4 linked regions of the Homo sapiens genome follow. The protein of the gene in region 2 interacts with the protein of the main gene of each other region in a pairwise test. Each region holds a gene or a part of one and is shown on either strand. Other genes may lie near its edges.

Evidence for each region. Proteins that work in one complex are often made in the same cells at the same time.
Region 1: the proteins of WBP11 (region 2) and RSPH1 interact in a two-hybrid assay, tested with the Homo sapiens proteins (one large-scale study listed by BioGRID and IntAct).
Region 3: the proteins of WBP11 (region 2) and PRMT2 interact in a two-hybrid assay, tested with the Homo sapiens proteins (one large-scale study listed by BioGRID and IntAct).
Region 4: the proteins of WBP11 (region 2) and RBM5 interact in a two-hybrid assay, tested with the Homo sapiens proteins (one large-scale study listed by BioGRID and IntAct).

Annotation. Positions count from the first base shown.
Region 1 is NC_000021.9:42,489,725-42,493,224, forward strand, and holds part of RSPH1 (radial spoke head 1 homolog), read right to left. Parts: intron 3,356-3,500; coding exon 3,242-3,355; intron 3,140-3,241; coding exon 3,034-3,139; intron 1-3,033.
Region 2 is NC_000012.12:14,786,479-14,789,978, reverse strand, and holds part of WBP11 (WW domain-binding protein 11), read left to right. Parts: intron 1-845; coding exon 846-1,028; intron 1,029-2,480; coding exon 2,481-2,914; 3' UTR 2,915-3,500. UniProt on the Homo sapiens protein: Activates pre-mRNA splicing. May inhibit PP1 phosphatase activity.
Region 3 is NC_000021.9:46,659,674-46,662,648, reverse strand, and holds part of PRMT2 (protein arginine N-methyltransferase 2), read right to left. Parts: exon of another isoform or gene 1,817-2,975; coding exon 1,687-1,816; exon of another isoform or gene 1,379-1,686; intron 850-1,378; coding exon 713-849; intron 1-712. UniProt on the Homo sapiens protein: Arginine methyltransferase that methylates the guanidino nitrogens of arginyl residues in proteins such as STAT3, FBL, histone H4. Acts as a coactivator (with NCOA2) of the androgen receptor (AR)-mediated transactivation.
Region 4 is NC_000003.12:50,109,419-50,112,918, reverse strand, and holds part of RBM5 (RNA-binding protein 5), read right to left. Parts: intron 3,317-3,500; coding exon 3,231-3,316; intron 2,541-3,230; coding exon 2,456-2,540; intron 2,241-2,455; coding exon 2,149-2,240; intron 1-2,148. UniProt on the Homo sapiens protein: Component of the spliceosome A complex. Binds to ssRNA containing the consensus sequence 5'-AGGUAA-3'. Regulates alternative splicing of a number of mRNAs.

The sequences.
Region 1 (3,500 bases), on a different chromosome or scaffold from region 2:
GATGCAGAACCTGAAAAGCAGAGAGACTGCATGCATTCCCCAAGGTCCCACAGCTGGTGGGTAGCAAGACTGAAATGAAAATTGGAGTCTGTCTAACACCATGCTCTCTTCTCCACAAGCATCCCAACAGTCAAGTGCTCATTTTTTCCAGCTCCTGCCATTCGGGGGCTTCCAAAAAACCCAGGTTCAAGTTATCATGTCATTCTTCTTTCTCCACAATGTCATTCTTAAACTTCTTTGTTTTGATGAGTTCTGTTTGACAGGCAACAAGGCCAGCAGGGAATAGGGATGCTCTTTCTCCCCCTTAACCTCAGAGTCCTCAGTTGGCCCTACACCCCCAACCCTCAGCATCAGTACATGGGGTCTAGGCCTCCCCCACATCTGGCACCCACCCTCCCCTCCATCTCATCCCCCACTACCCCTAAAAACCTCGGCCTTCCTGCCTGTATCCAAGTCACCCGCCACCCAGGACCGTCTCCCCACTCCTCTCCTGCAGCACTATAGCCTCTGCTGGCTCCTGGACTCCCTAATTGGACTTGTGTGACCATCTGGGAGACAGGTAGGGTACTGGACTTTATGCCACAGGGTCCTGACGTTGAACACACTGCCCTGCACAAAACCATTCTGGCCCATTGTGATGGCAGCCAGCCAAGATACACTGTTATGAATAACTCAGCCATACATTAACTGAGATTTTGTGATTGGAAGAGTATTGGCTTACTATGTTATAATTAATATTATAACTTCTGACCTCAGTTTCCATTGCTGCCTTCATGAAGTAAGACACTTATTTAAGCTTTTGTCAGAGAAGAAATCTCTGGGTAGTGGCTAAATCTTGCACCCTTTAAGATACAAAGCCATCTGGAGAATCAAAAATCCCAACTGTTACCAGAAGAGCTTTATATGTTAGTGTGGCATAATAAGAAATATTGGTCTTTATTCATGGTTCCCAGCACAGAGCTCCTAAAACCCTTGACATTTCCTGACTGATAGAAATGTTTTTGTTATTCAAAATGAGACTCTTTTGACCACACCTGAACTTATGCAAATGAGGCCCAGGATGGCCTCAAGATGGGACTGAACACCAGAAAGACCAAGTGATAAGAAGGATAGAACCTCCAGCCCCACCCACCAACTTTTGGTAAAGAAGAAGGAAGGGGCCAGAGATTAAGCTCTGTAAAAACTCTTGAGCAAGATTTGTTGAGCTTCTGGGGTGATAAACATATCATGTGCCAGGAGGGTGGTGCACTCCACCTCCACAAGGACAGAAGCTCCTGTGCTTGGGAACCTTCCAGGCCTTGCCCTCTGTACCTCTGAATCTGGCTGTTCATCCATATTCTTTATAATATCCTTTACAGTAAACATGAGTAAAGTGCTTTCCTGAGTCCTATGAGCCGCTATGGCACATTATCAAACCTGAGTAGGGTGTTGTAGGAACCCCCAATTTGTAGCCGAGTCAGGTAGAACTGTGGGTACCCTCCGGATCCACAACTTGAGGTTGACATCTGAAGTGGGGCAGTCTTGGAAACTGAGCCCTTAACCTGTGGGGTCTGTGCTAACTCTGGGTGGTGTCAGAATGGAGTTGCATCATTGGAAACTCAGTTGGTGTTCACAGAAGACTGGAGAAGTACATAGCATGGAAAATCCATGCATTTGGTGTCAGAGAAACAGTTACCCATTTTTAACCTTCATATTCAAAATTCCTTAAATCCCTTATCCTAAATATCTTCGTGTGTGTGTGTGTTGTTCAAATTGTATCAACATCTACACTAAAATCAAAAGTGACAAGAATGAGATTAGGTGCATAAGGATTTGGAAAGAATTAAATTAAGCCCCAAATTAAATTGTTTAAAGTTGATTTAAAAAGCAGATGGTGCTTCTTATAGAGCAAGCCTTCTGGGATTTATGAAACAAAACAAAACAATTTCTATCTAACAGGGATGGTATTAAAACCCTCCATCTTGGTCTCAGAATTGGACAGAATCATCACTGACATCTATTAAAATAAGAACCACCTACTGGTTCTTATTTTATCTAGGAGCAAAGCAAGCAACTATAGCTCGCACTTTGTAAGAATATGTCCTCCTCACTAAGAAGTGATGCTGTCACAAGTGGTACATCACAGTCCTAGCCCCAGTTACTGAGTGCTCACTATGGATCAGGCAAGGTTGCAGGTGTCTCCCTGTGTTTATCCATTGAATCTTCATGCTACAGATGAGAAACTGAGGCAAGGAGATGTGAAGTCACCTATGCAAGCTCACACCTATTGTCACCAGAGTCCAAGGTTAGGGTCACAGATCTTTTTGGAAATCTGAAGAAAACTAGACAATTTCTTTCTTCCTAGGGAAAAAACAAAAAGCCCAGAACACAGAATTTTATATACACTTTCTGAAGACTCACAACACGCTCCCTGCCGGTCCCCCTGCCCAGGTTTGGGATATCACTAATGTGGTCACACCAGGTGACAACGGCACAAGGGGCGGCAGGGAGGTTCTTGGAAATAAAGGAAAAAGAATCCTCCTCAAACATAACATTGGCCTGTAAGGACTTATGGCACAGGTAGGAAAAGTCAGTTTAACAAGGCAGGAAGACTCCCAGACAGGAAGCCCTGATGTAAGGAAACACTCGATCTGAAGAAATAACACATCCGTCAGATGGCGGGGTTGGTCAGAAATGGAAAATGCAAAGACAGGTTCAGGAAGATGAATGCCGCAGAGCAGCTGAAGCCGTGGGTCCACCAGCTGCGAGGCCTGCGTCCACTCAGGAGCCTCCCTTTTGTCTGCTCCCAGGACATGGACATGCTGGCCACAGGGACAGATTTCCCACTACAGATTCATTAGTGAGTTAATTAATTACAAGGCTTTCCTATTTCTGCATCAACACTGTGAATATAGTAACACGATCTGTGTTCGTTGAATGAGTAACTGGAGAACTTTAAGCTTTCTCATACATGTCAGTATTCACAGACAAGTTCAGTCATAAAGAAAGAAAAACTTCTGTAACACGAAAATCTGCTTAGTGATAACATTTTACCTTCATATCTGGATCCATCTGGATATATAAAAGTGCCTTGACCGTGCTTTTTATTTCTAACATATTCTCCGATATATCGAGCACCATTTTTAAATTTGTAGATCCCCTGAAACACATTGATTATATCATTCATATCATTGCTGAATGTAGCATTTGCTAACAGAGTATTAAATAGAGAAAACCATCCAGTCAAGTCAACGGTTCTGACCTGGCCATGTCTTTTACCGAATTCGTAGCTCCCTTCGTAGGTGTCCCCGTTGGGTAGCCGTGCCCTCCCACGTCCGTGCCTTTCGCCTGCCTCATTCCGACCCCCCTCATATTCCTGGGTAATGAAAATTGACACAATTACAGCTACCATTCATTAAGCGCTAACCAGGTGCTAAGCATTTTGTAAATATCATACCCTTGAGTCATCCCACTATGCTAAACCCCCGGCACTATACTCAATTGTCCCACCTTTCCCACCT
Region 2 (3,500 bases):
AAAGTATAAAAAGATTATTTATGAAATGAAGCAACAGAGAACTTTTCAGCTATTTGTGATTTTAGTCCTTCATCCTATTGTCAGCCTACTAAGTTTTCTTCAGTTGAGCTAATCATTTTCCGATTGGTGCAAAGCAAAGTTACCTATTTTATGTCATTCTTAGTGGTCTTTGTCTATATATTCATGAGTTTCAAGGGGTCCTTAAAGCATTGTGTTTTATATTCCATTTTCAGCTTATACTGGAACCATTTAAGAATTCTTATCACCTTTGTATATTTCCAACATTGCGGAGCTGTGATTGAATATGCTTTTTGTCAGTGTTGGGAAATAAAGTGAAAAGATCCACAACAAATCCAGTACCATTTTTCTGGTGCTCAGATATATTTTTTTTTTTAAGACGGAGTCTTGTTCTGTCACCCAGGCTGGAGTGCAATGGCGCAATCTCAGCTCACTACAAGCTCCGCCTCCCGGGTTCACACCATTCTCCTGCCTCAGCCTCCCAAGTAGCGGGGATTACAGGTGTCTGCCACCATGCCCGGCTAATTTTTATGTATTTTTAGTAGAGATGGGGTTTCACCATCTTGGCCAGGATGGTCTTGAACTCCTGACCTTGTGATCCACCCACTTCAGCCTCCCAAAGTGCTGGGATTACAGGCATGAGCCACCATGCCCGGCTGTACTCAGATATTTATTGAATGAATTCTGTTTCCATGTATGTTTCATTAACTTCTTGAAGTTAATCTGATTTCAGGTTAAAGTCAAACCATATTTGAGTTACTTTTAAGCCATAATTATTACTTAGTGTACATTTGTGTGACATTAATTTATCATTTTTCTCTTTTCAGGAGCTCCTCCATTCCTGAGACCACCTGGAATGCCAGGACTCCGAGGGCCCTTACCCCGACTTTTACCTCCAGGACCACCACCAGGCCGACCCCCTGGCCCTCCCCCAGGTCCACCTCCAGGTCTGCCTCCTGGTCCCCCTCCTCGTGGACCCCCACCAAGGCTACCTCCCCCTGCACCTCCAGGTGATGCTTTCAATTTCTATAATAAAAACTTAGCCTGCTGTTTATTTAATTTGCTCTAAGACATATGGTCACATTTCAGTATTCTGAAATCTGAGGTCATCTTACAGTCAGTGGTGGTTTTTAAGTTGCCGTTGACCTGGCTTGAAGTACAGTTCTTCCAGTGGGTATTTGCACTTGGTTCACTTGAGGAACTTGTAGCCAGAGAACATGGGATTAAATTCTCTATTTGATAATTTTTTGGTTTTAGTTGTAGTTACGAAGCCGTTTCATGCATCTGCATGAGTACCAACTTAAAGTTTAAAATTAGAGTGTTTTTTTCCCTTACCTCTACCTAATGTCAAGGTTAGACATGCAGATTTTCTTGTGGGCTTGTTTTATGTGGTAGGTATATTTCTAGTTTACAACACTGAAATGTCCCAGTTTCATGTGAATATCTGCTTTTCAGTGCCCCAGCTGGGGCTTTTTTTCCTCTCTCTCTCTCAGTGGTACACAGAATAATTATGAGTTTGTAATCAATAGGATCTTAGATTTGATAAAATGTACTTAATATTTCATTTAAAAGTGGTATTTGAAGAACTGAAATCTGCAGTTCTTGGTATATGAATATTGTGTATGTCTGAACTGTCCATAGGACATGAGTTCTTTTCCAGTAATGATGACAGATTGTGATTAGTTGCATTCTCTTACTCCATGTGCATTGTTTTTTTCTTTGAGACGGAGTTTCATTCTTCTTGCCCAGGCTGGAGTGCAATGGCGCGATCTGAGCTCACTGCAACCTCCGCCTCCTGGGTTCAAGCAATTCTCCTGCCTCAGCCTCCCAAGTAGCTGGGATTACAGGCGTGCACCACCACGCCCAGCTAATTTTGTATTTTTAGTAGAGACAGGGTTTCATCATGTTGGTCATCAGGCTGGTCTCGAGCTCCTGACCTCAAATGATCCACCCGCCTCAGCCTCCCAAAGTGCTGGGATTACAAGTGTGAGCCACCATGCTCGGCCTCCGTATGCATTTGATGACCAGGGTTAAAATTTTATTTCCTGCCCATTGACCTTTTTGTGCAGGGGAAATGGTATGGAATATAATGCATGGGGATCAGTCTCCTGACCTTGTCCTTACTAATACCTGCACTATGCAGCTGGAATAGAACCTTGGGATGTGAGATTTGAGATAGTAATTTGAAACCAGTTGATGTCCCTTTATATTTTAAAGTAGGATGTTATTTAGAGAAGAAGAGAACATAATACTGTAAGTACAGGAATATAGGCTGAAGGTAAATACTGTTTTATAATAAAATATTCCTGAGTTTCAAATAGCAACCAATATGAATTCAGCTTATTTTCTGTAAGTTGTTATCCATTTATTTAAAAATTGGCAACCAATATTTAAATGTCCTTAATAGTAGTTAAATTTTATTAGTTCTTACAGTATTCATCTTGCCTATTTTATTCATTTAGGTATTCCTCCACCTCGTCCTGGCATGATGCGCCCACCTTTGGTGCCTCCCCTTGGACCTGCCCCCCCTGGGCTGTTCCCACCAGCTCCCTTGCCAAACCCTGGGGTTTTAAGTGCCCCACCCAACTTGATTCAGCGACCCAAGGCGGATGATACAAGTGCAGCCACCATTGAGAAGAAAGCCACAGCAACCATCAGTGCCAAGCCACAGATCACTAATCCCAAGGCAGAGATTACTCGATTTGTGCCCACTGCACTGAGAGTACGTCGGGAGAATAAAGGGGCTACTGCTGCTCCCCAAAGAAAGTCAGAGGATGATTCTGCTGTGCCTCTTGCCAAAGCAGCACCCAAATCTGGTCCTTCTGTTCCTGTCTCAGTACAAACTAAGGATGATGTCTATGAGGCTTTCATGAAAGAGATGGAAGGGCTACTGTGACAGCTTTTGATGCCAGAAAAGGCTTCTGTTCACAACAGTGGCCCATGGAGAAAGAGGCTCTTATTAAACTTAGATGAAAGAGCTGCTTCCATTGTCAGGGTATTTTCTAATTTCAGTTCAAGGAATATCCTAAAATTTAGCCTTGTTCAGAATTTACTGCACATAAAAAAGGGTATTTCATCCAGAATAGATCAGTTATTGAAGCAGTGCTGCTAACATCCATTCCCTTTCATACCACCATTTTCACCCTGTTTCTTCCCCTCCTCCAGTTCTTTGGAAATTTGTGATCGGGGGATCTTAGTTGCTTATTTGTTTTGACTCTTGTGTGCTGTGGGCACTGGAGTAGAGATTTCTGGAGAAAAAAAAACAGTTTATTTCATCTTGCCTTTTGTGTTTGAGTTATTTTTAATATTTTCCTGTAAATATTTTGTAATATTTTACTTGTAATGAAATGGATCACAATGTCATTTCCTAATACAAGGCAGGATATGTGGGAAGAATATGTACAATTATTTGATTAAAATTATTTCCCACTGACCTAAACTTTCAGTGATTTGTGGGAAAAATAAATAAATGTTCTACACCA
Region 3 (2,975 bases), on a different chromosome or scaffold from region 2:
AGCCTGTGCCCCAGGTCACTGCCCCCTCCACGCCCCCAGACTCGGGGATGGGTATAACTGGCCTCCAAGCTGCCCACCTCCACCCGGTGATGGCACTGGAGGGGCCACCACAGGACTCTTGTGATGGGGACCACATGCCAGGCCAGGCCATCAACCCCGCACCTCTGCGACCTCCCTGGAGCCGGGGTCCCCTCGCGGGGCCACCACGCTGGGAAGTCAGCGGGGCAGGTGCCAGAGCGGGGTAGCCAACCCCACCCAAAGGGAAGGCCTGCAGGGCCCTGAAGGCAGCTCCACTGCCACACATGCCCAGGGTGCTGGCGGGGAAATGTGTCCCAAAAAACAGGCACCTCCAAAAACGTCAGGTGAACCCCGACGCCCCGTGGAGGCGCTTTGGGTCAGACCATGAAGAGCTGTGGTGCTCCTCGCGGGGTGGAAGACAGGGAGCTCCTCCCGTTGGGGCTGTTGTCGGAGGGACGCCCAGGCTGGGCCCAGAGTGGTGGCGAGACCCGGAAGGGGGCACACAGGCTGCGGTGTCTACACCACCCGTGCCCCCATGCGCGCCGCCCCCACCCCACTGCCCGCGCCCCCACGTGCCCCACCCCCCCACGACCGCCACGCCGCGTCCCACCCCCTCCTGCGCGCCCCATCCCCGCACCCCGCCTACTCCCCTGCCCCCCACCCCGCACCCCGTGCCCGCGCCCCGCACACTCACGGGTGGAAGGGCCCGGTGCTGAGCACCTGCGGCGGCTGCCCCTCCTGCAGGCTCTGGAAGTGGACGCTAAACCAGGCCGTGAAGCCGTGCAGGGTCCCCGCCTTCCTGATGTCGAAGCGCAGCTCGCCCCTCAGGGTCTGGGTCAAGCAGATGACAAGGCACGCGTGGGCACCGCGTGGCACCGCAGGGCCCGGGTTGGGGCGGCCCCCTCCACGCGCCCCGCGCAGACGCTGAATGCGTCAGGAACCGTAGAAAAGCCCCCCAGCCTGGGGAAACCACCCCCAAAACCCGCATCGTGAGTTCAGAGGCTTCAGTCAGAAACGTTTCAAGCATCTGAGCTTCTTGCGCCCAATTTTCTACCCCAGATTCTGCGGAATCTTTTCGGCGCTCAGCTCTTCCAGTTAAGGAGTTGGAGAGCTCCAGGCTGGGCCTTTCCACAGCAGAACGAACTAAAAACCAAAGCGCGCCGGCGCCACCGCGCCCGCCCCATCTCCAGACGCGGCGCCAGCTGGGGCGCCAGGCAGGGCGGGGGCGCGGGGAAACCGCCCAGAGCCCACGAGCGCCACCGCGCGGCCACAGACAGGGATTCACGGAGGGAATTCTAACGATTCTGTCATGAAGAGTGGCTTAAAATACTTGAAAAAAACTGTAATGCAAATACCATAATGAAACGAAATATAATTTATTTGATTTTGAAGATGCTGAGAATATTAAACATAAATCTAAAATGAAGACGCTGGAGACATAAAATGGTGTACAATATGAAAGAATCAAAATAGAACGTAAAAAAGAAAAAAGACTGGAAAAAATCAGTAGCAAACGTTTTATAAATTCACTTATTTGCATAATAAAATAATTAGTTATTCACTCACACCCCCAGCACTCACTGAAGGTTTTTGATAAGCCAGGCTCTGGTCTGAGTGTTTCGTGGTCACTGATTATCGAATGTAAGGAGCAATTCATCTTTTTCTCACCTCTAGATCAGAAATTTGCACGGTTCTCATGTCCAACTGCAATATAGTGCACGGTTCAGAGAGACAGTCTTCTGGTTTCAAAATGTGGTTATACTTGGGCTTTGAAAAAAACTCCTTAACTGCTAAAGATCTAGGGGAAAAGGTCAAAGCGACTGTTGAGAGTCATTGCAAACATCTTAGGCTTCAAAACACACACGTGGGACCGCGGTGAGTGCTCTCCCTTCTGTGTCACCAGGATGCTAAGCCACTATCTGGGGCCCTGGAACCCCAGAGCAGCCCTCAGGCCTCCACAGGCCCTGGGTGCCTCCCGCTCTGAGAAGACCCAGACTCTACCCAGGCATCCAGAGACTTCCTGAGCCTGACCTGGAGGCATTAAGGAGCCTGCCAGTCACTGGGCGCTTCCCTGTGAGGTCTCATTCATGGGATCTGAGCACACGGAAACCAACGCTCACCCCTCATAACCCAGAGGACAAGGGGAGTTGCAGCGTGTCTTGCCTAGTTTTAGAATGTATTTGATTTCAAAATCTTTTGTGGATCTTCTATTAACAGTAAATGAACGCGGTATTCCTGCTGTAGGTTACTCTATAATAAACGAAAGGAACTAGAAGGGCTGAGGTGGCCTGAGTGAGTCTGAGTTTCAGGAGAAATACTTGCTCTGTTGCTACACAAATTCAACACAGAAACAGACACTAGACGCCGCATGGCCCCTGCATGTCACCGTTTGCCAACCCCCATCACTGGCTGCACTAGGCTTGTAAGTCACCGATTATTTACCACAGAAATGTTGTAAAAAATAAGCAAAGCAGTAACTTCTGAAATAGCAAATAAAAGTGAATGTTTTAATAAAGATTCCACTATATTTACACATTTATTTTTCTGATAAAAAATTACAAATTTAAAAATTGGAAACTATGGACAAGTATAAAGAAAAGCTTAAATTCCCCATATGCCTGTCTTAGCATTGTGATATACTTATTTTTATCCCCCAGACATATTTATATAAATTTATTTATGCAAGCAAACATCCATTCTGTATACACGGTTTATTCTGCCAAGCTTTACTGTCTCTTAAACCCTTTCTAAATATCATTACATATCCCTAAAAACCTATGGTTTCTTTTTTAACAGACACACAGCAGTGCTCCACCAGATGGATATACAGCAATTCAATCACGTTCCTCTGGACGGCCACTGGCTTCCAGTGCCGGGAGGAACACTCAGGTGGGAGGCTCTGGCAGTGACTGGGGTGGGCAGCCTGATGCCAACCTCTAAGGCCCTGGCAGCCACAC
Region 4 (3,500 bases), on a different chromosome or scaffold from region 2:
ATCATGCCACTGCACTCCAGTCTGGGCAACAGAGTAAGACTCCATCTCAAAAAAAATGATAATAAAAATTTAAAAAGTCTAGTTCCCATTAATTTAATCCCTGGGCCTACCTAGAGGGCACCCAAAGAGCAATTTGTCTCACTCTGTTCCACAGACTATTTACATAAACCAGGCAGCCAGAACAGGTGGGCGTGTCATGGAGTTCAGACATCTGCCATGACAACAGCTCATCATTGGGCCCATCCACATAGAATCCATTGGATACCAGGCAACCACACACAGGGTGTAAACACTAGCACAGAGCTGGAAGGAGGTGTTGGTGAAGGGACCCAAGCTCAGCAGGAATTGCAACAGAGGAGAGGTGTCACATATCCTCTCCTCTATTTTCCAGTCGCTCACTCTATCTGCTCAACAGGGACCCAGGAGACAGTGTCTGTCTCTTCTGGGTAAGGTGGCGTGGCTAACAGACACAACTTTTTTTTTTTTTTTTTTTTTTTTTTTTTTAGACAGAGTCTCGCTCCGTCACCCAGGCTGGAGTGCAGTGGCGCGACATTCGCTTACTGCCAGCTCCACCTCCCGGGTTCACGCCATTCTCCTGCCTCAGCCTCCCGAGTAGCTGGGACTACAGGCATTCGACACCACGCTTGGCTAATTTTTTTGTATTTTTTTTTTTTTTTTAGTAGAGACGGGGTTTCACTGTGTTAGCCAGGATGGTCTCAATCTCCTGACCTAGTGATCCTCCCATCTTGGCCTCCCAAAGTGCTGGGATTACAGGCGTGAGCCACTGCGCCCAGCCTACAGACACAACTTCTAAGGCCACCAAAGAGAACTGACGGGAAAAAAAAAAAAAAAAAAAAAGAACTGACAGGGAAATAAATGGCCAGGCTTCACAAATGAGAGAAGTGGATGGAAGAGGTATGCAGAGGCTTGGCCTGCTTAGGCACGTCACACACAGCTTCACACTTCAATCTCTCAGAAACCACAACCTATCAATGCCAAGTTCCTGTTAAAAATACTTATTACTGTTCTATATATACAGCTCCCGGTCATAAATAGAGTTATTTATGGGGTGTTAAAGTTGTTTTTCCCTTTTAAAAGTTATATATGCCACCAAAAATAAAACATCACTCCATACATCTGCTAAATTCTACCCTCAAGAATACACAGGGAGGCAAAGTAAAGGATGCTGGACACAAAAGGTAATCTATTGTCTGACTCCACTTATATGAAATGTCAAGAACAGAGGGCTGGGCACAGTGGCTCATGCCTGTAATCCTGGCACTTTGGAGGCTGAGGCGGGTGGATCACTTAAGGTCAGGAGTTCGAGACCAGCCTGGCAAACAAGGTGAAACCCTGTCTCGACTACAAAAATTAGCTGGGTGTGGTGGGCGCCTGTAATCCCAGCTACCAGCTACTCAGCAGGCTGAGGCAGGAGCATTGCTTGAACCCAGGAGGTGGAGGCTGCAGTGAGCCAAGATCGTGCCACAAAAAAAATAAAAAAAGCAAATCCATAGAGACAGAGAGTAGATTAGTAGTTACTGGAGGAGAGTACAGAATGGGGAGTGACTGTTTAACAGGTACAGGGTTTCTTCTTCGAGTGATGAAAATGTTCTGAGATTAGACAGTGGTGACAGTTACACAACACTGTGAATATATTAAAAGCCACTGATTTGTACACTCTAAAAGGTTAAACAATAGGGAGAAAAGTACAATTTAAAATTTCTAGCTAGGTCTTTCCATAAATTGTAACTTGACAAAATAATCTATGGCAACAGAAATCAAAATAGTGGTTATTGAAGACATAGGTTACTGACCAGCAATGGGCATGAGGATTAGGTGGGCTGGGAATAAGTGGTGGTGTATATACACATGTAATATACAAATGTATAGACATGTATAAACATTCAAAGAATTGCACATTTCTGTTTTGTGTATTTTTTTGTGTGTATATTATACCTCAAAACATTTTTTAACCCTACAATTAAAACTTACAATCTCCATATAAAAATTACATTTTGGTGGCTTTGAAGAAGTTAAAACTAATCTGAGTCATATATTCTTTTGCAGGAAATATTTCATTTTATGCCTCATAAATGCACTAAGCGAAACTACTTCTAGTGAAATTGAGGAGGAAAGCAGCACATTTACTTGCGAGTTGGGGTCATAATAGAGCCCTGTTGTCGGATCATAGTAATATCCTGAAGATTCATCATACTGGTAAGTGGACGTGTCAGGTACTGCTGCAAAAACAAAATCCAGCATACAGTCATTCCAGGTAAGAAATTGGCTTTATTTCAAATTCTAAGCCAGTGAGATGCAGCAGGCCTAATGTTTCTTCTCTGTCTCACATCCCCAAGTGTCCCTCTGACACCCGCAAAGGGAGAAGAACTCTCATTAAACAAAGACAACAACTAAGACCTTCCAACTGTCAACAGCCCCATGAGGTTTGGCTTACCATATTTGGTACCAGGAACTACACCAGTAGGGGAAGCGGCTGGGGCCTGTGTACTTGTGCTAGTGCTAGGCTGTGCTTCCTCAGTCTGGAAAGAACAGCAGCTTCAATATAATTTCAACTGTAAAGCCTTTTAAGAGAGCTAAATCACTGCAATCATCCAGGAGGAAGGGCTCCCCTGACAGACACACTGTAGCAATAATCTAAGGCAATCCCTCAGCAAAACACATGTTGACAACTTTTTTGCTTTCTTTTTCAAGAGGAGTCTTGCTCTGTTGCCCAAACTGGACTGCAGTGGCGCAATCTTGGCTCACTGCAACCTCCGTCTCCGGGGTTCAAGCAATTCTCCTGCCTCAGCCTCCCGAGTAGCTGGGATTACAGGCATGTGCCACCACGCCCGGCTAATTTTTGTATTTTTAGTAGAGACGGGGTTTCACCGTGTTAGCCAGGATGGTCTTGATCTCCTAACCTCGTGATCCACCCGCCTCGGCCTCCCAAAGTGCTGGGATTACAGGCGCGAGCCACCACACCCGGCCCCGGCGACAACTTTCTAAAGGTCAAGCATGCATAAAGTGTAAATACACAGTTGAAATTTTATATTTAAAATATACATGCACATATATATCATAAAATTAATATTTTAAAACAACAGAAAGAAATAAGGTTGAAGTGTGTATTACTCAATCCTGGCTCATACAACAGGAAAGGGTAATACTTGTATAGCAAAACAAAATTTCCCCATCAGCCACGAGTTTTGTATATAGGACAACAGGATTACCGGAGAGCCAGGTGGATTGGAGGTTTGATTATACAGCTGAGGACTCTGGGACACTACAGCCGCTGAGGTGGTGGTCACTGCTGTGCCTGATGATAAACACAAGTGTTAGGGAAAGCCAAGGCACTGAACGCCAACCCAAACATCTTTATTTGTAATGCCCAATCTAGCCTTCTTCTGTCATTGTATATGTCAGTTCTTCATAAGCTAACTTCCACTAAGTACCCTGGAATCTGTGACATTTTCATTTTCTTATAATTCTACTAGATGTGA